Homo sapiens: one gene and its partners. The protein of the gene in region 3 purifies or fractionates together with the protein of the main gene of each other region. This does not show direct contact. Each region holds a gene or a part of one and is shown on either strand. Other genes may lie near its edges.

What was found.
Region 1: the proteins of VPS33A (region 3) and RIC3 purify together in Homo sapiens (co-immunoprecipitation; one large-scale study listed by IntAct). This does not show direct contact.
Region 2: the proteins of VPS33A (region 3) and ANKRD22 purify together in Homo sapiens (co-immunoprecipitation; one large-scale study listed by IntAct). This does not show direct contact.
Region 4: the proteins of VPS33A (region 3) and VPS39 purify together in Homo sapiens (co-immunoprecipitation; one study listed by IntAct). This does not show direct contact.
Region 5: the proteins of VPS33A (region 3) and CD226 purify together in Homo sapiens (co-immunoprecipitation; one large-scale study listed by IntAct). This does not show direct contact.
Region 6: the proteins of VPS33A (region 3) and VIPR2 purify together in Homo sapiens (co-immunoprecipitation; one large-scale study listed by IntAct). This does not show direct contact.
Region 7: the proteins of VPS33A (region 3) and P2RY8 purify together in Homo sapiens (co-immunoprecipitation; one large-scale study listed by IntAct). This does not show direct contact.

The regions. Positions count from the first base shown.
Region 1 is NC_000011.10:8,107,785-8,110,073, reverse strand, and holds part of RIC3 (protein RIC-3 isoform a precursor), read left to right. Parts: 3' UTR 1-2,289. UniProt on the Homo sapiens protein: Molecular chaperone which facilitates proper subunit assembly and surface trafficking of alpha-7 (CHRNA7) and alpha-8 (CHRNA8) nicotinic acetylcholine receptors.
Region 2 is NC_000010.11:88,845,298-88,848,851, reverse strand, and holds part of ANKRD22 (ankyrin repeat domain-containing protein 22), read left to right. Parts: intron 1-3,554.
Region 3 is NC_000012.12:122,256,486-122,260,039, forward strand, and holds part of VPS33A (vacuolar protein sorting-associated protein 33A), read right to left. Parts: intron 1-3,554.
Region 4 is NC_000015.10:42,163,259-42,166,812, forward strand, and holds part of VPS39 (vam6/Vps39-like protein), read right to left. Parts: coding exon 3,514-3,554; intron 3,392-3,513; coding exon 3,305-3,391; intron 2,975-3,304; coding exon 2,901-2,974; intron 2,559-2,900; coding exon 2,460-2,558; intron 1,856-2,459; coding exon 1,738-1,855; intron 1,632-1,737; coding exon of another isoform or gene 1,615-1,631; exon of another isoform or gene 1,461-1,614; intron 1,229-1,460; coding exon 1,100-1,228; intron 471-1,099; coding exon 368-470; intron 138-367; coding exon 92-137; intron 1-91. UniProt on the Homo sapiens protein: Regulator of TGF-beta/activin signaling, inhibiting SMAD3- and activating SMAD2-dependent transcription.
Region 5 is NC_000018.10:69,888,864-69,892,417, forward strand, and holds part of CD226 (CD226 antigen isoform a precursor), read right to left. Parts: intron 1-3,554.
Region 6 is NC_000007.14:159,040,316-159,043,869, forward strand, and holds part of VIPR2 (vasoactive intestinal polypeptide receptor 2 isoform 1 precursor), read right to left. Parts: intron 2,862-3,554; coding exon 2,720-2,861; intron 1-2,719. UniProt on the Homo sapiens protein: G protein-coupled receptor activated by the neuropeptides vasoactive intestinal peptide (VIP) and pituitary adenylate cyclase-activating polypeptide (ADCYAP1/PACAP).
Region 7 is NC_000023.11:1,464,158-1,467,711, forward strand, and holds part of P2RY8 (S-geranylgeranyl-glutathione receptor P2RY8), read right to left. Parts: intron 3,062-3,554; exon of another isoform or gene 2,874-3,061; intron 2,426-2,873; 5' UTR 2,402-2,425; coding exon 1,322-2,401; 3' UTR 1-1,321. UniProt on the Homo sapiens protein: G protein-coupled receptor for S-geranylgeranyl-glutathione (GGG), an endogenous metabolite present in lymphoid tissues.

The DNA of each region.
Region 1 (2,289 bases), on a different chromosome or scaffold from region 3:
TGAGAATGAGCCCAGAGGCTTGTTTGGGGACTGTTTTACTCTGATACTACCTGGATATCTAGCTTCCTTTACCCCTGTTCTGCTTAACAGAACTGCCAAGCCCAGAAGTACCTTTGCACTCCTGGTTTTCAGTGGACAGAGGAAGCTTTAGATAGAGACTTTAGACCCTGCCCTGCAGAGTCAAGACTTGAGGCCATTGAAGCTGCAGGAAGCCCTGCCCAGGGATGGTCCTGCCATGAGGAGGCTGCAACCCTATAAGAGGGCTCAAGATTGTGAATTCTGCTCCTGCCATGAGGAGCTCAGAAGGCCAGGAAGCCAGCAATAGGGGAGAGAATCTGTGTGCTTATGGACAGTCCTTACCTAAAGCTGTTTCTGAATGTTGCACCCTTTGAGAAATTTCTTCTCAGAACCATAAATTGAAACAAATGAGGACTGATCTTGTATACAAAGTGCCAACTCAAGAGGGAAGTTGGAGTATGTCTGTTGCAGAGAACCAATATAGCAGTGCCCAGGGGTAGAGACCATGTGTTCCATACTCGGATATTTGGGTCTTTTTGAGAGAGCTGGGGAAAGTAGCAGCAACTAGATTAAGACTGGGAGGATTTTGACCAAACTAAAGGCCTTTTCTCCTTACTGCATCTGACGTGTGTCTTCTTGAGACAAGATAGCACCCATGAATTACATCATGAGGTATGTGTGAATTCAGTTTACATGTAAGACCTGAGAGTTCGAAGAGGGCACATTCCCAAAGACATTCCCAGTCATGAAATGTAGAAGACTGGAAAATTAAGACATTATGTAAAGGTAGATATGGCTTTTAGAGTTACATTATGCTTGGCATGAATAAGGTGCCAGGAAAACAGTTTAAAATTATACATCAGCATACAGACTGCTGTTAGAAGGTATGGGATCATATTAAGATAATCTGTCAGCTACTACTAGGCATTTATTGTTAATTGAGTTACAGAAAGTCATTCAAGACTGAGTTTATAGAAAGCATATTGCATCTATCTCTGTGTAGAACATTTGATTCACATTGTGAAGAATGCAGTTTAAAATATACTGAATGCAATCTAGATGTATTGTACACGAAAGGTGAAAAATAACAGGTGCTCTTTACTGTTTAGATAAATTGTTTTCTGTGTTATTTCCCTTCGTTCACTGTGAGGGGTTGATTCATGAGGAGAGCCCTGGGTTCCTGGCTCAGGTTTACTTTTGGCCTTAGGATAGGATTCCCTTATTAGAGATAAATACTGCTGTTCTCTTCTAGCTCATTCATTCATTTAGCAGTCAATTGCTCAGTGCCAGGTGCTAGGAACAGAGGCTCAATCTCTACCCTCAGAAAACTCAGTGTGACGAGAGAGAGCCTGACAGATAAAATGAACTATGACCCTGTAAGAGGGCTCAGGATCGTGAATCCTGCAGGCAGAGAAACATGAGCCATAATCTGTCCCTGCATTTTCTAGCTGTGGAATCTTGGGTCAGCTCCTTAACTGGTCTGAGCTTTGGCTTCAGGGTAGTAAAGGGAGGGGTATTAAAGGTCCTGGTTAAATGAAATCATCAGTGTGTGTAAAACAGCATTGGTTCTAGCTCATACATGATAACCACTCATTAAGTGGTAATTATGTTTTTATTATAAGGGCTATGCTGTAATTCAGACATGGGCCCAAAACTACAGGAAAGATAAATTGTTTTTGCTAAAGTATTGCCAAGAAACTTCACAGTTTCTTGGGAGGTGGGCCTTGAGGCATGCAAAGAACTTCTTCAGGTAGGCAAAGAAGAGAGGACACTCTTGGCAGAAAGAGTTGTTGAAAAAAGCAGTAGGGTGTGAAAATACATGGATGTTCAAGTATTTTGGTGAGGCTGTTATGTAAAGTGTTGTTGGTCTTTGGGGAAAATTGGCTTATGGAAATTCCTGCCAGAAGTACTAAGCCCTTATGGTGGTTCTTCCTGCCCTAGCTCTTGGTTGGTTTATATATAAGGAATATATTTGTGTATTTATATATCAGACATTTGGATGTACCTTTCAGTTATTTAGGATTTAGAAAATTCTTTTTGGATTTTCCAGAATTATTTTATCCTTCGGGGATGACAGTTATATGTGTATATACAACCCAGGATGACAAAATCATGGGTCCGGTTTTTGTTGCCAGGGCTGCTGTCTCTTTTCTTGCGGTCTTCATTTCTCACGAGGGTGCTGGGAACTTGATCAGTCCCCTGGCCTTTTGGCACTGTGGCAGAGTACACAAGTCATACCTTTATGGACAGTTAGCTCACAAAACAACTGCA
Region 2 (3,554 bases), on a different chromosome or scaffold from region 3:
CAAGTTTTATTGGAAAAGCTGGTACAGTTGAGGAGGAGAAGTCAGGGAATACAGGAATAGAGATGTGACTAATTGAATGGCCATTGGACTGAAAGTCAAGCAATCCTATATTTTAGACCTGATTGTGCCAGGAACTTCAAGGGATTTGAGAGGAAGTCATTTAACCTCTCTGAGTCACAGTTTTAATATTACAAAACAAGAGAGCTGAATGAGATCTGGTTTCACATTTAACATCGTGTCATTCTGTGATATGAGAAAGGCTAGGCAGAGACAATGGGGAAAAAATTGCATTCTCACAATCTTCCCAGCTCTCTCCATCTACCTTGTTTATGTATGAACTCCTAGCAAGATTTTGGTATTCAACAACATATGCAAGAAGAGCATCAGGCGTTTTCATCCCAACTGGTTTTCTAATTCTTTCCTTGTATATTGAAAGTAATTTTACAAATTAAAATGTTGTGCTAAGTCACAAAAGTTCAGAGAGAAAATGATAACTTTCACATATGAAAAGACACCAGGATTGAAAATGTGTATACCTTTATTTATTTATTCATTCACCCATCCATTTGTTTAATCAACCATATTTATTGAGTACATACTATGTTTCAGGCATCTTCTAGTTCCTGGTGTATATATGTATATATATATGTATATATACATATATACATATATATATACACATATATACATATATATATATACACGCATATATGTTGGGCATCCCTAATCTGAAAATTTGAGTGGAAGTGCTCCAAAACTCCAAATTTTTGAGCACAAACATGAAACAAGTAGAAAATTTCCTACTTGACCTCATGTGATGGGTCACAGTCAAAATGCAGGTACACAATGCACAGTTTACTCAGAATTAACAAGAGAAAAAAGAATTTCCCAGCCCCTTTCGGCTGTGATATATCTTTTTCTTGAACACCCAGTTTTTCCCATGAAAGCAAGTCCACAAAGGGTAAAAAATGGCACCTGTGCAGGATGAATGAGCCTATAGCAGATTTGCCACTCTGCCTCCATGGGGCCAAGATTTGTGTGTATTTCTCTGTGTGTGTCTTTTTTTGTTTTTTGGGGTTTTTTTTTATTTTGTTTTTGTTTTGCTTTTTCTCTACTCTGTGATGTAAATATACTGTTGAAAATATCAAAAAGGTCTGCAGATACTTATGGGTAACAGTGATAAGAAAAAAAAAGGAAGCATTTATGTATACTTATAACACAGAAAGTCAAGCTTTTGGATAAATTGGACAGTGGTATAGGTATAAAATGTCTGATAGAAGAGTATGGTGTTGAGGCCAGGCGCAGTGGCTCATGCCTGTAATTCCAGCACTTTGGGAAGCTGAGGCAGGTGGATCACCTGAGGTTGGGAGTTTGAGACCAGCCTGGCCAACAAGGTGAAACCCTGTCTCTACTAAAAACAGAAAAATTAGCTGGGTGTGGAGGCATGTGCCTGTAATCCCAGCTACTTGGGAGGCTGAGGCAGGAAAATTGCTTGAACCTGGGAGGCAGAGGTTGTAGTGAGCTGAGATCACATCACTGCACTCCAGCCTGGGCAACAGAGTGAGTCTCCATCTCAAAAAAGTAACAATAAAAAAAGAGTATGGTGTTGAAATGACCACCATATATGACTCAAAGAAATAGAAGGATAAACTGTTTAAGTCCTATGCTGAAGTTAATGAAAAATGTAAAAAAACATTCCACAAAGCTACAAATGAAGATCCCAATTGTGTATTGAGAAAGTGGATCCATCAGTATCACAAAGAACACATGCCACTTAATGGTATGCTGATCATGAAACAGGAAAAGATCTATCACGATGAACTGAAAATTTAAAAGAACTGCGAATATGCGTAGTTCTTTGGCATAAATTTAAGAAAAAACATGGCATTAAATTTTCAAATATTTGTAGTGACGAAACATCTGCTGATCAGAAAGCAGCAGAGAAATTTATTGATGAGTTTGCCAAGATCATCACTGATAAAAATTCTCACACTAGATCAAGTCTATAGTGCTGATGAAACATCACTGTTTTGGCATTATTGCTTCAGAAAGACACTGACTTCAGCCGATGAGACAGGCCTTGTGGGCAATCAGGATACCAAGGACAGGATAATTGCGCTGGGATGTGCTAATGCAGCAGGCACACACAAATGTAAACCTGCTGTAATAGGCAAAAGCTTGAATTCTCACTATTTTCAAAGAGTAAATTTCTTACTAGTCCATTATCATGCTAACAAAAGGCATGGGTCACCAGGGACATCTTTTGTGATTGTTTTCACAACATTTTGTAGCAATGGCTCATGCTCACTGCAGGGAAGCTGGACTGGATGAAGGCTGCAAGATTTTGTTATTCCTTGACAACTTTTATGCTTATTCTTCAGCTAAAATTCTCATCAAAAGTAATACTTATTCCATGTGCTTTTCCCCAAATGTGACTTTATTAATTTAGCCATGTGAGAATGGTGTCCTTAGATCAATCAGTGTAAATATAAAACATTTTCGTAAACAGTATGTTATCAGCAGTGAACATAGGTGTGGGTGTTTCGCATAAAGGATGTTGTATATGCTGTTGCCAATGCTTGTAATGCAGTAACTAAAGACAGTTGTGCATACCTGGCATAACCTCTGTCCTGCAACTATGTTCAGTAAGTATTATAAATAAAGTGACTTTGAATGATTCTGTATGTCAAATGAGAAAAAAAAAAGATGTCTGACCATACATACGCAAAAAAAAGTACCTTCAGAGTCCACCAGTAAGTTGGAAGAAGTTGATATTGAAGAAATTTTTAACACTGATAATGAGGCTCCAGTTGTTCATTTATTAACCAATGGTGAAATAGCTGAAATGGTTCTGAATCAAGATGATTGTGATAATAGCAATAATGACGATGGTGGTTAACACTGTAAAGACTTTGTCAGGGGCCAGATCAGGCAGGTCTTGTAGGCCAAGGTGAAAAATTTAGATTTTATGCAAAACACAATGGAAAGCGGGTAAAGGATCTTAAGAGAGGAATAATATGACCATTAGGGTTTAAAAAGGCCACTCTGGTAGCATGGGAGAATAAATTTGAGAGATGCCAGAGGGAAAGCTGGATCTTGGAAGGAAGCTGTTACAGTAGTTTATGGAGTGATAATGATGGTTGCATTAGACTAATGGGTGAATTTTAGATAAATTTTTAACTAAAAGATTTCCTGGTTTGTAGGTTGGCAGTGAAGGAAAGTAAGAAATTAAAGTTGATACTCAGTATTCTGCCTTAGGCCAGCCAGTGGATGGTGGTGCTGATGAGATGGGAACACTCAGAGAGGGGCAGAAGGAAAGACACATTTCAGGGTTCTATTTGGACATGGTACTTTAGCGATATCCATGAGACATCTAGGTGGGGATGGAAGATGAATACAGGAAATGTACCTTTAAGGAGAGGCTCGGGCAAGAGATAATAATTTAGGAGTTGTCTGCATATACATGGTATTTAACGCCAAGAGAAGGGATGAGTTTAGACATGGAAAGAATGTAGAGATAGCAAAGGATACCAGGTCATTGTAGGAAGGTATGG
Region 3 (3,554 bases):
ATTGCTTGAACTGGGGAGGTGGAAGTTGCGGTGAGACGAGATTGTGCCACTGCATCCCAGCCTGGGTGACTGAGTGAGAATCTGTCTCAAAAACAATTAAAAAAAAAAAAGTTCTAGTCTCCAGAGCAGCAGCAGCGGCACCAGCAGCAGCAGCATCATAAACTCATAAATCAAAGAAACATGGGTAAGTGTGATTATGTTAAAAACATACACACAGCCAAAATTACCAGAAGCAATGTCAAAAGAAATGACAAAGGCGAACGCAGCCTACAAAGGGCGCATGTGCAGAGGGGCCTACAAACAGGCTCATTCTCGGCAGCACTGCCTCCAACAGCGTAGAGAGGAAAAAAATGCTCTCCAACAGAAAGCTGATTTAATACATTATGTACATCCAAACAATGGAACTCTATGCAGCTTCAAATGAGAATAAACAAGTATTGCCATACGTGGTAGAAAATGACTCAGAGATATTATTAAGAGAATAACGCAACATACCAAAGTATATATATCATATGCTACTACTTGTACAAAAGTGGGGAGGGATTATATACTATGAGCTGTAGCTGCATATAATATCCCCCCACCCCAAATTAAAAGAGAAATAGTGATTGCTTCTGGGATAAGGGGCAGTCTGAGAACTGGGGTAAAAAGTAGCTTCAGGCCAGGCACAGTGGCTCACGCCTGTAATTCCAGCACTTTCAGAGGCCGAGGCAGGTGGATCATCTGAGGTCAGGACATCGAGATCAGTCTGGGCAACATGGTAAAATCCCGTCTCTACTAAAAATACAAAAATTAGGCGGGCGTGGTGGTGGATGCCTGTAATCCCAGCTACTTGAGAGGCTGAGGCAAGAGAACTGCTTGAACCCAGAAGGCGGAGGTTGCAGTGAGTCGAGACTGTGCCACTGCACTCCAGCCTGGGCAACAGAGTGAGACTCTGCCTCAAAAAAAAAAAAAAAAAAAAAAAGGGCCGGGCGCAGGTGGAAGCTCAGGAGGCTGGACAACACGGTGAAACCCCGTCTCTACTAATACACAAAAAAATTAGCTGGGCGTGGTGGTGTGTGCCTGTAATCCTAGTTACTTGGGAGGCTGAGGCAGGAGAACTGCTTGAACCTGGGAGGTGAAGGTTGCAGTGAGCTGAGATTACACCAGTGCACTCCAGCCTGGGTGACAGTGTGAGACTCCATCTCAAAAAAAAAAAGATTTTCTTCTTTGTCTGCAGAGTGGAAGATTTATGAAGACTCAAAAAGCACAATCTAAAAGAACAAAAGTGATATATTTACCTGCTTTAGGGTGAAGGACTCACACTTCTGATTTCAAAGCTTATGGCAAAGCTACTGTAATCAAGACAGTGTAGTACTGGCATAAGGACGGACATACAGACATATAGATCAGTGAAACAGAACTAAAAGACCAAAAACAGACCCTTACATTTGTGGACAATTGATTTTTGACAAGGGTACCAAAACAATTCAATGAGGAAAATACAGTCTTTTCAACAAATAGTGCTGGAACAAATAGATATCCATGTGTAAAAAATGAAATTTGGACACCCACCTTGCATTACATACAGAATTAACTTAAAATGGGTTGAAGACCTAAACATAAGATGTAGAAAAATTATAAGCTGGGCGCGGTGGGTCACACCTGTAATCCCAGCACTTTGGGAGGCTGAGGCGGGAGGATTGCCTGAGCTCAGGAGTGTGAGACCAGCCTGGGCAACATAGTGAGACCTGTCTCTTTAAAAAATAAAAAATTATAGAACTCTTAGAAGGAAACATCAGAGTGAATCTTTGTGATCCTGGGGTAGGCAATGGCTTCTCAGAGATGATACTGAAAGCACAAGTAACAAGAGAAAAACTGGATAAAAGAGACTTCACCAAAATTTAAAACTTTAGTGCATCGAACGACACCAATCTCACCAAGAAAGTGAAAAGAACTCACAGAACAAAAGAAAATACTTGGAAATCATGTATCTGAGGAGAGACTTGCATTTAGAATCTATTAAGAATTCTTACAATTCTGTAATAAAAATGACAGAACCCAATTTTAAAAATGGGCAAGTGATCTGAACAGACATTTGTTTAGCTGAAGACAAAGGCCAACAGGCACAAGAAAAGATGATCAACATCCTTAGTCATTATGGAAATGCAAATAAAAACTACAATGAGACACCACTTCATACTCAGTAGGATGACTAAATTCAAAGAATAACAGGCCAGGCATGGTGGCTCACGCCTGTAATCGCAGCACTTTGGGAGGCTGAGATAGGTGGATCACCTGAGGTCAGGAGTTCAAGACCAGCCTGACCAACATGGCGAAACCCCATCTCCACTAAAAATACAAAAACTAGCCAGGCGTGGTGGTGCATGCTTGTAATCCCATCTACTCAGGAAGCTGAGGCGGGAGAATTGCTTGAGCCTGGGAGGCCGAGGTTGCAGTGTGCCAAGATCGAGATCGCACCACTGTACTCCAGGCTGGGTGACAAAGTGACAATCCATCTCAAAAAAAAAAAAAAAAAAAAAGACAGAATAATAAGTCTGTCCATGTGGATATACAACTGGAACCCTCCCACACTGCTGCTGGGAGTACAAACGGTACAGCTTCAGTGCAAAAGAGTTTGGCAGCTCCTCCAAATGTTAAATGCAGAGTTACCACAACTCAGCAATTCTACTCCTAGGGGTGTGTGTGTGTGTATGTATGTGTGTATGTATGTATGTATGTATGTATGTATGTATGTATGTATGTATTTTTGAGACAGAGTTTCACTCTTGTTGCCCAGGCTGGAGTGCAATGGCGTGATCTCAGCTCACTGTAACCTCCACCTCCCAGGTTCAAGCAATTCTCCCGCCTCAGCCTCCCAAGTAGCTGGGATTACAGGCATGCGCCATCATGCCTGGCTAATTTTGTATTTTTAGTAGAGACGGGATTTCTCCATGTTGGTCAGGCTGGTCTTGAACTCCCAACCTCAAGTGATCCATCCACCTCAGCCTCCCAAAGTGCTAGGATCACAGGCGTGAGCCACCACGCCCAGTCTCTACTCCTAGGTATATCTAAGAGAAATGAAACCATACATCCACATAAAAACTTTTCACAATATTCACAGTATCGTGACAGCCAAAAAGTGGAAACAACCCATCAGGTGTCCATCAGCTGATGAATGATAATATCATTACAATGGAATACTATTCAGCAATAAGAAGGAATGAAGGCCTCGCGCAGGCTTCAACCTGGGTGAACCCTCAAAACATTACACTAAGTGAAGATGCCAGACACAAAGGACCATTTATGTATTATAGAATTTCATTTCTAAAAAATCTCCAGAATAAGTTCAAAACCAGCCTGGACAACATAATAAGACGCTGTCTCTCCAAAAAATAAAAATAGAAAAAAAAAGAAATTAAAAAAAAATTAGCCAGGTGTGGCGGCACATGCCTGTAGTTCCAGCTACTCAAAAGGCTGAGGCTGAAAATTCGTTCAAGCCTAGGAGGTCAAGGCTGCAGTGAGGTATTATCACGTCACTGCACTCCAACCTGGGCAAAAGAGTGAGACTCTAT
Region 4 (3,554 bases), on a different chromosome or scaffold from region 3:
CTTATTCTGCCACTCATATTATTGCCACCTCTGGTCAAACCAACGGGGAGAGGTATGCACACGTGCTCCCTGGGTCAGGGTCACTACTCACATCTTTGTTGCCATCTTTGTTTCGGTCATAGTGTTTGTGGCAGTACCTGCAAGGGAGAGAGTGGTGAGAGCAGGTGGTGTGAGGGGGGCACATCTAAATGAGAGGCTGTGCGTGCAGCCTGCTCGAGCAGCCTAACCACAGCCAAAACTGCGGGCCAGGACGGAGGCGATTCTTGCTCCCGCAGTGGAGTATGGGGAGATGGCCTTCTTAACTCTCATCTCTCTGCAGGGCCTGCTTTTAGACTGCTTAGGAGGTGGGATGTTGGGGCAAACTTACTCCTCAGCCATCCTTGTATCCTTCAAGATGTGGACATAAATGAAAAGAGCTTGTTCATGTTTCCCCATGCGCCCCAACAGGAGAGCTCGTTCTTCTAAGAGGCCTAGGAGGAAAAGGAATATGAGGAACCACTGCCGCCATCACGCAAGCACAAGGTGGGGGCTATGCTGTCAGAGGAGTGGACACGAGGCAATATAAAGGGAAGACAATAGGATTCTTATTGCTTGGGTTTTTCTTCAAGGAGAAAATAACTGAAGTTTAAAAAAGGGGGAGGGAGCTATTTTAGGAAGTACTTTATCCCATCTTTTTTGAGGTCACATATAAACTGGGTAAGAATATTCATTCAGCAGCCAAGTACTTAACAACCACCTACAACATGCTAGGTGGTTCAGGTAAGATGAGCAAATGCTTGCTCTCAGCTCTCATAAAGACAAATTATGCCAGATTACAAAAACTGCTGAACAATGAACTTGGCCAAGAACATGTTCTGAAGCAAAAAACAGGTTGCAACCTGGCTATCAATTAGCATGTGGTTCATACCCAGGAAGGAGACTTTTCTCAGTCACGGTACAAAAGTGAGTCTTCAGAGAGGACAAAACAGGAGCACTGGCCTGAAATGCCTGGTTTTTCCAGGCCCAACTTTTGTGGAGAGTTGGGGAACAATTAAAGGGGTGGATTAGTCTTTGCATGACCTTCGCTGAAGTGGCTTCTGGCCCTAAGCCAGACACTCACCATCAAAGGGAAAATCACAGATGAGCCGGCCTGGATCATAGTAGCTGGAAATCTCCAAGAACATGAGGAGCTTTTGCCGGTATTCTCCCAGCTCACCCTCTTCCTCTCCAGCTGGGACTGGGGTTTTGCCTTTAAGGGAAACCAAGCTCAAAATGAAAGGACACTGCCAGGTGGCAATGTAGGGTCATCAAGAAAAATGAAGGGAATGGGGTTCAAGGATGTCACCACATGACCAGAAAGGGCCTCCAGGGTGGCTTCCATGCTAACTTCTTTTAGTTCATAGTCTCCATGTGGCCCCAAAACATCAGCTTACGGTTAAAAAAATAAGCTGAATAGAGAAATACTCTGTGGGCAAACCTGTTTCTTATCAGTATAGCTGTCATCTTGCAGACAGGTCTGTTCCTTCCACCCTCCCCGAGGGATGACTCTGAGACACTCAGAGATGCCAGGACCTAGACAAGAGCTCCTGAGTCTCATGTGCCAGGCTTGTGTCACTTAGCTCCCCTGGCTCCTCTTCAGAACTTCTGCGCACCTGGGCAGAGAATAGGGTGGCCTGCTTACCCCCACCACACGTGGCACCTGGGTCTGTGCTCTCCTCTAAGGCCTGGGGCCAACCGGCTTCCTAAAAGAACTGGTACCTGCAGGGAAGGACAGGAGATACTCCTTCATCAGACCTTGCACCTTCTCACAGTATAGCTGGATCAGGCAGTTGTGGAACCGAGAGCCTGTCTCCTCCCAAACATGGATGATGTGTTCCTGAGGCAAGATGTAGGTCTTTGTCACTGGTATTCTCCAGGCTGTGACCTGGTCTCCCAGCCTCCCTCACATTTTTAAGGCCCAACAGGTCCCATCCAGATTATCCCCTAATCGGGCTGCAAAGATGACTAAGAGACAGCTCGTCTAAAGCCACCAGGAAGTTTCACAATGCGACCCAGTAACGTGAGGAGCCATCTTCTCAATTACTAAACTCCATTTTACTAATTTTGTCCCATAATCCTCCAAACTCTCATAGCGACTCATGTAATTGTGGTTAAATATCTGCATCCTGGTACTTAAGCCTATTTGATTGTCCTGTGGTCACTTTTGAGTTTCGCTTTGGAATTTTTTTTCCAAATGTGGCTTTGGAATTTTTTTTTCTAAAACATTATTCTTTTATCCCTCTGTAGTTTACCTAGATTTGGTAGGTAGCATTTCCAGCTTGGTCTACTGGGATCTTTTTCTTCAGAGGAAGCTGAAATAACCCTCATCCTTCCAATCCCCAAGTGACATAAATCCCAAATCTGAACAGCCCGATAACAGAACCACGCAGTCCTGGATCCTGGGTTTAAAGCTTTTTAGTGCAGACCAAAAAATACCTTACCAGATAAGGAATAGCCAGACCCTTAAAATTCTCTATTAAGAAGCCGAGGACTCGATCACGTGGCAGAGACTCCACTTCCGGGAGATCTTCAGTAAATATCTGTTAGAATGAACCCGAGTTCCAGCAGCAGAACCATCTGACTGCAGTTCCAGCAAACACACACGCATGTGAGCGCAGGGATCAAACAGACTTTAGGAGGGCAAGGGTACGAGAAGGCATCTGTAGGCAGTCAGCATGTCAGACGAGGCACAGGCCTCCTCATGCCTGTGTAAGGCTCTCTCTACCAACTACAGTGCTGGCTCGCGCTTCCCAGTCCACCCTTTCTTCATGCACCAATGAAGACAGATGCATGAATCCACCCTCCTCTCCATCCACTGCTGTCTCAAGTGCAATCAGAACCAAGTGTTTACCAGATAAATCCAAGGGACTCCTGTGGCTCACCTTCAGGCCATCTTCTGGGAAGTCTCTCAGCACCCACACTGAGTAGGAGAAAATCAAATGCAGGTTTTCTGTGCCTAGAAGGAAAAGCAGGACTTGTCAGCAGTTGAGGCCCATCTTGCCTGTGGCACTGGGAAGGCAGGTGGGCAGGTTGCCCCAGAATTCATTTTCCTGAAAAGACAGCTCAAGCATGAGCCACTTGGGGTTGTTAGCCCTACTGGGCTGGCTCCATACCAGGGGGCTGTCACAGGCCAACCACCGAGGGACTTTTATGCCATTTGGAGGAATGAAATTGAGTGAACACGAGCACGGGAGGGAGGGGAGCAACCAACCAGAAACAGAAACAGAGGGAGACCAGGTCATTTGAACAGGAGCGCTTTCCCACCCCTTTCAAAAGGCGGACTTACCCAGATGCTGCAGATACTGCACTGTCCTCTCGTGGCCTTTCAGAGGGGAGTTGGCTTTCTTGGACTGGTCCACGAGCACCTGCAGAGCTGGCCACCAAGCCCAAGAACAAGGTCATGAGCCTTTTCCCCACGGGAGATTTCCATATCTCAGTGGGTTTCCCCTGCCATGTACAAGAGCCCCTCCCAGATCCAAGGAACCACTCCCACACCTTTCTCGTGGAGCCCCTTCTTCTCATACAGGATGATAAGC
Region 5 (3,554 bases), on a different chromosome or scaffold from region 3:
TCCCTCTGACAATAACTTATCACTATTATTCAATATCTTACTTATCTATACAATAATAGTATGTATAAAAAATGACTGCAGGCAAACATTCTAGGTTTTTGTGTGTTCAAAAAATGAATAGATCAATACTAGGGCTTACAAAACAAATTAACTGACCGGTTGCATTTTTTTGAATGCAATAGATCATTAAAAAAAATGATCTGGGCAGAGGCAACAGTAAAGTAAAGATTCAACCACATAATAGCCATGATTGAGTAATCAACTCACTTGTGATGCTGGAAACTATGTTTCATCTGGATACCCAGTTTCACCGAGAAAACTAAATTGGGCTGAAAATTGTGGTTGATCTGTTTGAGTAGAGGTTATTTTAGCTTGTGAGCAGTGACACGGTGCTCTGGGATTCTGGTCGTGTTGCTCCATCATATAAATTAACTGTCATGGACATTTTACTTTCCATGTAGGTAAAGATAATAAAAGGCTGAGGTTCACCACACAATGTCATGGAAAGGGACATATCTGTCAGCCCAGTGCACACCAGTTCAGACAATCCTCATGTCCACAAGCTTTATATCTATTCTAAATTCATAGGAGTGGGACAGAAGGTTCTGGATTAATGGAATCCTTAAAAAAAAAAAAAAACTGTCTTGTCTACAACCTGAAACTCTTCTGGAATCCAAATGGACTGGGAGCAAACTGGTTGGTTTTTGACAGAAATAAAAGGCCAAGGAAATAAGCAAAATTTATTTCCTTTCTTCAATAATTTTATAATCCAACTCAGGAGCACAGAGTCTCAAAGTCAGTAACCTCCCACAAGCCATCTACAGGCAAGATTTATAATCTGTATAAATAAGATGTATCATCTATATACGGATGTATTTATAACTTACAGCACTCTATTCCCCTGTCCTTCCTCCTTGTCAATCCTATACCTCACATCGTCCCAGAGGAAATATCTGGGAAGATTCTCTTAGCTGTGGCACTATGATTTCCTAGTGAATAGTTTTGTAATCTTAATTTACTAATCCCATCCTTCTATTCAGATGACCAGCAATTATGTGCCACTTATATTAAAAATTCAAAATAAGAAAATGAAAGTTAAAAAAGTAAATAGCCCTATCTGAAAGTTATATATGTAAACAAGAGTTCATGAAAGTTTTTTCTCCAATCACTGTAGTTGATCTTTTGAAAGTTCAGTTTCTTTGATCAACAATCAGTAAACCTCAAAGGTTAAACGTTGAAGAAAAAAAATCTGGAAAGAAAAGAGGTAGAAAACTTAAAATTAAAATGGACACAGCCCCTACTAGAATGAATAGAAACATTAACATAATCGGTCAAGAACACTTACTGGGCATATTCTGAAAAGATGCTTTGACAACTTTAAGCAGATGCCATAATCCTTAATCTCAATTAATTTCTGATAACCAGAGTTTGGAACATTACAAATAGATGCAGGCCAGGTGTGGTGGTTCACACTACCAATCCCAGCACTTTAGGAGGCTGAGGCAGGGGATTGCTTGAGCCCAGGACCATCCTTGAAACCCCATCTCTACCAAAAATACAAAAATTAGCCAGTCTCATAACCCGGTCTCAAAAAATAAATAAATAAATAAATACAAATAGATGGAAGTTAATAAGTCACTCGAGGGTAGCAATTTTCAGACTATAAAAGTTTGAGAAATCCAAGATGCTTAATATTTCAATGATGGGGAAGCAGTTTGGTCTGATGTGGAAAAAAACATAGACATTGAGACGGCTGAAACTCTATAGGAAAGAAAGCAAATGTGATGGAAACTTAGTCAGTTAGAAAAAGGAGAAAGTAGGAAAGTGTGAGTGTTTTGAGGCAGTGGAAAGCACAAACTGAGATTCAAATCATGCTGACAGTATCTCTCTACCCTGTGTAGGACACCTTTGTGCCTACAAAGGTAGGTGGATCAGTGGCCTATGACCCATCACTGATCCCAGGACCAGGTGGCTTCACAGATGAATTCTATCAAACATTCTAGGAATTAATGCCAATCCTGAGTTTAGAAACAGTTCTACATTATCATGTGTAATCAATAAATGATTTAATTCTTTTTTAAAAAAAGAAGCAGTTCTAAACTCAGTTTATGAGACCAGCATCACCCTGATACCAAAACCAGACAAAGACACCACAAAAAAAAAAAAAAAACCTACAGGCTGACATCCCTAATGAACACAGATGAAAAAATCCTCAACAAAATACTAGCAAACTAAATTCACCATCACATTAAATGGATTGTATATTCTAATCAATTCTGATTTATCCCTGGCATGCAAAGATGGTTCAACATATGTAAATCAATCAATGTAATACACCACATTAACAAAGTGATATAAAAAGGCCACATGATCATCAAAATAGAGCATAAAAAGCATTTGACAAATTCAACATCCTTGTGTGATTAAAAAAAAAAAACTCTCAACAAATTAGGTACAGAAAGAATTTACCCCAACACAATAAAGGCCATCTATGAAAAGCCCACAGCTAACATCATACCAAGTCATGTAAGACTGAGAACTTTTGCTCTAAGATCAGGAAAAAGACAAAGGTGGCCACTTTCAACACCTCTGCTTAACATAGTACAAGAAGTCTTAATCAGAGCCATTAAACAAGAAAAAGAAAACAAAAGGCATTCAAATCAGAAAGGAAGAAGTAATATTATCTCTGTTTGCCGATGACATAATCATATATGTATAAAACCCTAAAAGTGCCACAAAAAAACCTGTTCAAACTAATAAATGAATTCAGTTAAGAGGCAGGATACAAAAATCAACATATAAAATATCAGTCAGGTTTCTGTACACAAACAGCAAACTATCCAAAAAAGGAATTAAAACAAAATCCCATCCCCAATAACAATAAAAGGAATAAAGTATTTAAGAATAAACTTAACCAAAAATGTTAAAGACTTGCACACTGAAAATCATATAGCAACTTATTCTTTCATGATTATTGTTTTGCCATCTTTGCTCAAGAACTAATGGTAGCTTTGCTTGACAATTATATGAGATGCAGGTTTTCACTGTCATCACTTAATTTAACCTACCTCGTCCCATATTAATACATAACTTAGACTCTCCATACCAACCTAGTCATTTGACTACAGTCTCCCATGCACCATCTCCCCATTCCTCCTGCATATTTGGGGTTACTCTTCATAACCTGTTTCATGTCATTCCTCAGCTCTAATCATCAATGCCTCATTTGAACCTTGATGGTCCCGCCTGAGTGGTCTCACTGGTGGAAGACGATTATACAAGGACATGAGTAATTATACTTATCAATAGCAAACAGAAGTTTTTTCAATATTAGCCTCCTCCAGAAACTTTCTGCAAGAGCTGATTTTATTTCTTTTGCCTTCATTCTTTTTATAGCCAATAAGGTCAGTTTAAACAATAGTAGTCTGCAAATCATTTAGCTAATATTAAAATATTTGACAAATTATTTTAGTGGCACCTAAAATACTTCTCTTATGACAAATGAAAATCCAGAGGATGTTAAGGGCCAAAAATAACTGTAGTCACTGTCAATA
Region 6 (3,554 bases), on a different chromosome or scaffold from region 3:
TCCCTCCTCAGCCCCGTGGCCTTGTCGGGGAGCCTCTGTGTGAGCACGTGAGTACGCACACATGTGCACGTGAGGCAGGCAGGACTCAGCTTAGTAAGCTTGGGGGTGTGCTTCTGGGAGTCCCACAGACCCCGCAGGGGAACCTGCTGTGGCTGATGGTGAGAATAAAGGGCAGGTTTGCTCCGTGTCCCGGGACAGCCCAGGGCCCCAGAGGAAACTGTGTCTCTGTCTAGGCCGCATGGAAGGGGCCAAGAAGAGAACTGTTCATCTTCTTGGCTGATCCTAATATCATGAGAAAAAGACCCTGCACCTATTTTGGGGGTGCTGCCCCAGGTGTTCTGCCTGGGAGAATAACCTTGGTTTGGTGAAGTCAGCTGGGAACAAAAAATATACAAAAAAATTCAACTGGAAGGAAAGCTATTTTTCCTGTTTCTTATACTGAGGTCTGACTATTTCTGGCTGACTTGTTTATTCAAAGCCTGAGCGTTCTTTAGAGGACAGCGAGAGGGAAGACCCAGCTTGGCTCCTCTCTGGCCTCAGGCATCTCCCCTCCCTCCTGTCCTCTGTCCCTTCCCTCCTCTGTCTGTCACATGCTTTTCCCTTTGCCTCTGCTTTCCCCTTGCTGGTACTAGAGTCACGGGGCATCTGGCACAAGGGGCAAAGCCGACTCCCTCTGTCCTCACAGAGCTTGACTTGGGGCACTGGCTCTGTGCTGCTGGGCATCGTGGGGCCCCACATGCACCTGGGCTTTGGATCCCGAGACTCCGGGCCAGTTGCTGGGTTCCCCTCTGCCCAGTTTCCTCGTCTGTGAAATGGGGCAACTGCTCTTCTGAAGGCGAATGAGTGTTCACCCAGTGTCCACAGAAACAGCCCGGCATTTACAGGATGCTCTGTGCAGTGTGTGGGAGGCCAGGCCCTCCCGGTGGGGCAGCCACGCTGGCTCAGATCCACTCTGCCTCGGAGGTTCTGGGCACTCCTTTCAGGTTGAAGCAATAGGGGAGAGTAGAGAGCTGCTGCTCCAGGCCAGCACCCAGTCCCGAGGGCCACCACTTTCCATGTTGCAGGTCCTCCAGGGTCCGCTGGGGTCCACTGAGGGTCTGTCGAGGGTCCTGAGGGTCTGTCGAGGGTCCTAACGGTCTGTCAAGGGTCTGTTGCGGGTCACTGCTTTCCATGTCGCGGGTCCCAAGGGTCTGTCATGGGCCACTGCTTTCTACATCACAGGTCCATTGAGGGTCCGTCAGGGTCCTGAGGGTCTGTCATGGGTCCTGAGGGTCTGTCATGGGTCACTGCTTTCTACATCACAGGTCCGTTGAGGGTCCGTCAGGGTCCTGAGGGTCCGTCATGGGTCCTGAGGGTCTGTAACGGGTCCTGAGGGTCTTTCATGGGTCACTGCTTTTGACGTCATGGGTCCGTTGAGGGTCTGCCATGGGTCCGAGTGGTCCTCTGAGGGTCTGTCAAGTGTCTGTCAAGGGTGACTGCTTTCTTCATGAAGAGCTAAGGGCAGGGGATCTGCAGAGTGAAGCCTGAAACCATCTCGGTGAGAGAGAATCCGACACCATCCTCACACTTCTTATGGGCGTTGACCACTGTTACACATGTGGGGAGACCCTATTACTAGGACAGGAACTCCAGGGGCCCAACTCCACCTGGGGAACGGGGCTTGCCAGGTGAAAAATCTTGTTTTTAATTTTGTTATCACAGCAAATCTGATTCACAGGCATCACGCGCCAGCTTATCCCCAGAGGCACATTTCCTGCATGAAGACGATGATGGGCTATGAAAAAGCTGACGTCTGTGTGGTTATAAACGGCTTTACTATCTTAAAACTAAGTTAATTCAAATCTGTTTAGACTGAGCAACTGTGCCAGCAGAGGGACCTATCTGCGTGGAATGCGGGAGGAGAGTCTGGAGCTCCTGGCTCCTTAAGAAGAACCTTGGTAGCAAGGGTCTCTGGTTGAGAGTGAGGTACCAGGGGCACGAATCCTTCACAAAGATGCCGAGCATGTGGAGTGCTCTGGGCCAGCAGGGATGTGCTTGGTAGAACGGCCTGCATGTAGGAGGTGCTCAACAGCACCTGCTATGTTAAACTGACTTGATTAGGTACTATATAACCACCAATAACTACTACAAATACAGCTGAGGGAGAAGGGCGTGGGTGGAGTCAAACACCCTGTACTGCATTTGTAGGAACTAATAATTAAGATTATCCTGAAATCAAAGAGTTGGACGCAGATATTCATAGATATGCAACTGAGTTCACAATCAGGCTTTACAAGGAATTTACCCATGGCACAAGATCAAGTTCTTCCAGCAATCTGGAAGGAAGCCTTTACTGCTCAGAATCTAGGAGATTCAGACAGAAAGCAACAGAGTTGTGTGTGTTCATCTGTGCCAAGATTTCTCAACCCAGATGTGTGTGAGGAAGGGTGTGCCTTTCCTCAGTCTAGCTCCATGGGGGTCAGGGCTCAGGGCCCTTTCACTTCCCAGCCCTGATGATGCCTGGGAACCCCACCCTCCCTGCCTCAGTGCCACCCCCATGTCTCAGCTGCCAACTGGGCCTGTTCTGGCCCCAGCCTCTCTGCCAGGCTCTCTGTTTCTCAGCCATGACCCTGTGCCCTGACAGGAACCCTGCACCAGCACAGAGACGTCCTCATCGTGAGAAGAGGGAACAGAGATAAAGGGACAAGACAGTGGGACCCTGTGGTGGGGACAGCCTTACCCAGGAGGATGGCTGGTCAGGGCAGTGCAACGTGCCAGAGCTGGAGTAGAGAACGTCGTCCTTGACCAGCACTGAGATGGCTCTCAGGATGAAGGACAGGAACAGGTTCAGGTGGATGTAATTCCTGGTGCAGTGCAGCTTCCTGAGGTGGGGGAGTGGGAGAGAGAGGAATTGGAGGGGGAAGGGGAGGGAGGGAGAGAGAACCAGACAGAGATGAGAAACTCATACTATGATCAGAGAAGCACAGAAAAATAAAAGAGTTGAGGGCATGAAGCAGATTTCACCATGAATGGCAACTGCAATTTGCTGTGGCAGAGAAAAATGAAAAAGCTCTGTTAAGAATTTTTTTGAGATAATAAAGTAGATGAGATGAAGAAACGTTTTTAGCAAATACATACTGAATTTGATAAGAAGTTTCCTATCAACAATTAAAAAACTGTTAAAATCCCAACAAAGGAGGTCAGTGAAAATGGTGGTGTAGGGACCATTCAAGAAACAACAACAACAACAACAAAGATACTCAAAGGCTTATGCCAACCAAGTGAACGCTTAGCCGGGGGAAGGCCCTGAATAGGCAGAGGGCATGCTGTCTTTAGCTCACCCTTTTCCACCCCACCCCAACATGGTGGTCATTTTGAAGACAGAAGCTCATGTTCCTATTGTGGGTACTTGGTCCTGGAGAAATTTCATAAACCCAAGGAGTTGTGTTTGTTTTGACCTTTCTGTGGGTTCTGGGCAAAAGACTAAGATTCCGCGGGCTGAGAAGTGGTTTTGCAGACATGCTGGAAGCTGAATGAATAAGCTCCCGCCACCTCAGGAGACACTTGGCAGGGGA
Region 7 (3,554 bases), on a different chromosome or scaffold from region 3:
AGGCAGCTCTCCCACTCCCACCTCCAGAATGGTCTTTCTCGCCCAAGAGAGCCTGGGATCCAATTCCACGTGATGTCCCAGCACCCCTGGAGAGTCAGAGCTCTTCTTTGCGCTAAACCAGCTCAGGTGTTGGGGCTGGTGCAGGCACATGCCGTGTAGAAGAAGACAGACAAAGACCCAGCCTGCTCACCACCCACACAGCAGGGAGGGGGCTCAGCGGCTGACACCCCTGTAGGTTCCTGGGGTCCACACCTGCATCTGCTGCTTGGTCTCCAAACGGTCTCATGGGTCAGGCCAGTTGCCTGCTTCCTGGACTCCAGATGGACTTGCCATGGCTGAGGCTCTCCATGGGGTAAAAGGACGCGGAGAATGGGCAGGAGGTGGGGAACTCCCGAATCAAGCTGCACCCTTGTGTTGGGATGGGCTGGACCCCATCTCACGGAGCCTCCTTTCCGCACCTGGGCCTCCCGTGGTCCTTGTCCTGAGTCAGGGAAGCCTGAGTGTGTTCCAGGGGCCTGATGGGACCTCCTTCTCTATCAGGGACTCACAGAAGCAGAATAGGGGTGGGGTCCCACCAAGCCAGGCCAGAACAAATGTGCCAAAAATCACCTTGGTCAGCAACAGGGTGGGGTGTGTGTGTGGGGGGAAGTGGGCACGGAGAGTAGCTGACTTGCAGGAGCCCCAGGCGCTCCTCTGAAAGAAGAATTCCAACCACAGCAACCACAGTGCCCCTGAGTGAAATAAACAGAAATTTCGGCGTGCACCGGGCTACGGAGACCAGAACCCCTGGAGGAGAATGGAGAAGGCCAGAACCACAACTAAGGGACGATGTCAGCAGGGAGAAGAGCTGGGAATGGGGCTCGCAGTTCGCCCACGGAGGATATCCAGAAACCGAGTCGGGTAGGCGGTGGGGCTGGTTGAATATCCACCCTCGGGTATGGACAGGTGTGAGGAGTGTCTAAGGAGCTCGGGGGTGACAGCCCAGCTCTACTAAAAAAAATACAAAAATTAGCCGGGCGTGGTGACACAAGCTGTCCCCTGACACAGAGAGGCAGAGGCACCCTCTGCAGGATAACAAGCACCCTGTGCGCTGCTGGGCTTTGCTTGTTTCTCTACCCTGAGTGAAGCCTGGAGACCCTTCCTCACCGGTGCCTCTGCAGTGCCTGGGAGGAATAAAGCCTGGAGACCCTTCCCCACCGGGCCTCTGCAGTGCCTGGGAGCAACGCAGCTGTTCTCCCTGAACCTCTGGCACCGTGGCCTCTCCATGCGCCCCTGGATCTCCAAGCTGCGCCCCCGGCTCTCCAAGCTGCGCCCCCGGGACTCAGAACACACTCTCCTGCCTCTGGAGGCCGGGCCTGGTGGCTCCCTCCATCCCTTCAGGGTGCGCACCGGCCTCGGAGCGCACGGACGTGGTCCTGGCGGAGAAGAGGCTCTCGCGGCGCGTGTCCAGGGTGTCTCTGGGCACCCGGCGGCAGCCCAAATATTCCCGCAGGCGCAGCTGGAATTCCCGGGACGCAAAGTAATAAACAAACGGGTCCAGACAGTTGTTGAGGCAGCTGAGACACAGCGTGAGCTTGTACACGTGGTAGTAGCTCTTGCCGTAGAACAGGCGGCTCACGATGTGCGCCAGGAGCACGAAGTTGTTGGGGGCGAAGCAGGTGACAAAGGCCAGCAAGACCACCGCGGCCAGGCCCACCGCGCGCCTCCGCTGCTCCCGGCCGTGCGCCTCCTCCGTGCGCAACAGCTTGAGGATGGTGGCCGTGTAACAAGCCACGGTGATCACGAACGGGATGAGGAACAGCAGGATGAAGATGGTGAAGAGGAACACGGCCCACATGGCCACGCTGGGGAGCATCGTCCACTTGAGGACGTCGAAGCAGGTGATGATGCCCAGGGCGTGCACCGGGTAGGTGAGATCGGTGCGCGCCAGCGGGGACAGGGCGGTCAGGAGCAGCAGCCAGGTCCCTGCACACGCGGCCACCGCGTAACGACGGCGGCGCCAGCGCTTGGAGCTGAGCGGGTACAGGACCCCCAGGAAGCGCTCCACGCTGATACAGGTCATGGTGAGGATGCTGGAATACATGTTTGCGTAAAAGGCCACGGTCACCACGTTGCAAAGCAGCACCCCGAATACCCAGTGGTGGCGGTTGCAATGGTAGTAGATTTGGAAAGGCAACACGCTGGCCAGCATCAGGTCCGTGACGCTCAGGTTGATCATGAAGATGACCGACGGGGATCTGGGCCCCATGCGCCGGCACAGCACCCACAGAGAGAAGAGGTTGCCCGGGATGCTGACCGCCGCCACCAGCGAGTACACCACGGGCAGGGCCACCGCGATCGCCGGGTTCCGCAGCATCTGCAGCGTCGCGTTGTCCGGGCCGGTGCTGTTCGGGACCTGCATCCTGGAGGGGTCCTCGCCCGGGCTCTGCAAGGGAAGGAGGGAAGGGTGTACGGGTCAGGGGCGCAGGTAAAGAGGCGGCTGCCGGGAGGGCTCCTGAGCGCCGCTCCCCGGGGACCAAGGCGGGGGAGATGCTTTAGCAGGGCCTGCTGTCTCCTCCCTCCCTCCCTCCCTTAGTTCCTCCTTCCCTCTCCTCCTTCCTTCCCTCCCTCTCTGCCTCCTTTCTTCACCCTGTGTCATTCTTTTCTTCTTTCCTGTCTTCTCCCCTTTCTTCTTCCTTCCTCCTCTCTCCTTCCTTCTCTTCTTCCCTCCTTCCTTCCTTCCTTCCTTCCTTCCCGCCCTCCCTCCCTCCCGTCCTTCCTTGGATCAGGGAGGTCATTGGAGACCTCGGCCCACGTCAGAGGCTGAGACTCTTAGATGATCCACAGTGGGGCTGTGGCTCCCCTGGGCAGGTTGAATGCATTGTCATACAAACCTCAAGACTCAGTGTCCCCCGTGGACGGAAACCACAAAGCCACCGTCAGCCCCCAGGGTGGTCTTAATGGGAATTCTTGACACCCTGGCAGTATTAGTCTGGGTATGAGTCCTCTCATCTCAGGGGCATCCACCCACAAAGTGTCTATCAGCAGAAAACACACACTCCGAGTGCCAGGAGACCAACCCGCAGCCTCCAAAGTCTTTCCAGCTTTTAACACCCGCGTCAACCCACGGCTCCTCCCTGCTCTTTCTTCCTCCAGAGGAGACCTGCGACTTCTTACCAACTGCTCTACAAACAGCTTCCTCAAGCTGGCTTTAAAATGGCCCGGAGTTTTCGTTTCAGTTTCAGGGAGAAGTTTTCTGACCCGCCGGTCCGTGCCCAGGTGTGAAACCTACAGTTATGCACGAGTCAGCACCGCTCCCCACGGCCAGCTGGGCACCTCCAGCCACCTATGGCTTCAGGAGGAAAAGCAGACCCTTCCTTCTTTGGGTTCCGCTTGGTGTGGCCGTGGGGGACGTCTGGAAGGAGAGACGCTTTATCCATGAGCTGGTGATGAAAAAGTGTCTGTCAAAGGGACACTACTTTTATTTTGAGAATGTAAAGTGGACAGAGCTGGAAACAGGGGTGCCCTGGAATTGTTCTTTTGTTTGTTTGTTTTATAGATATGGGGTCTTGCCT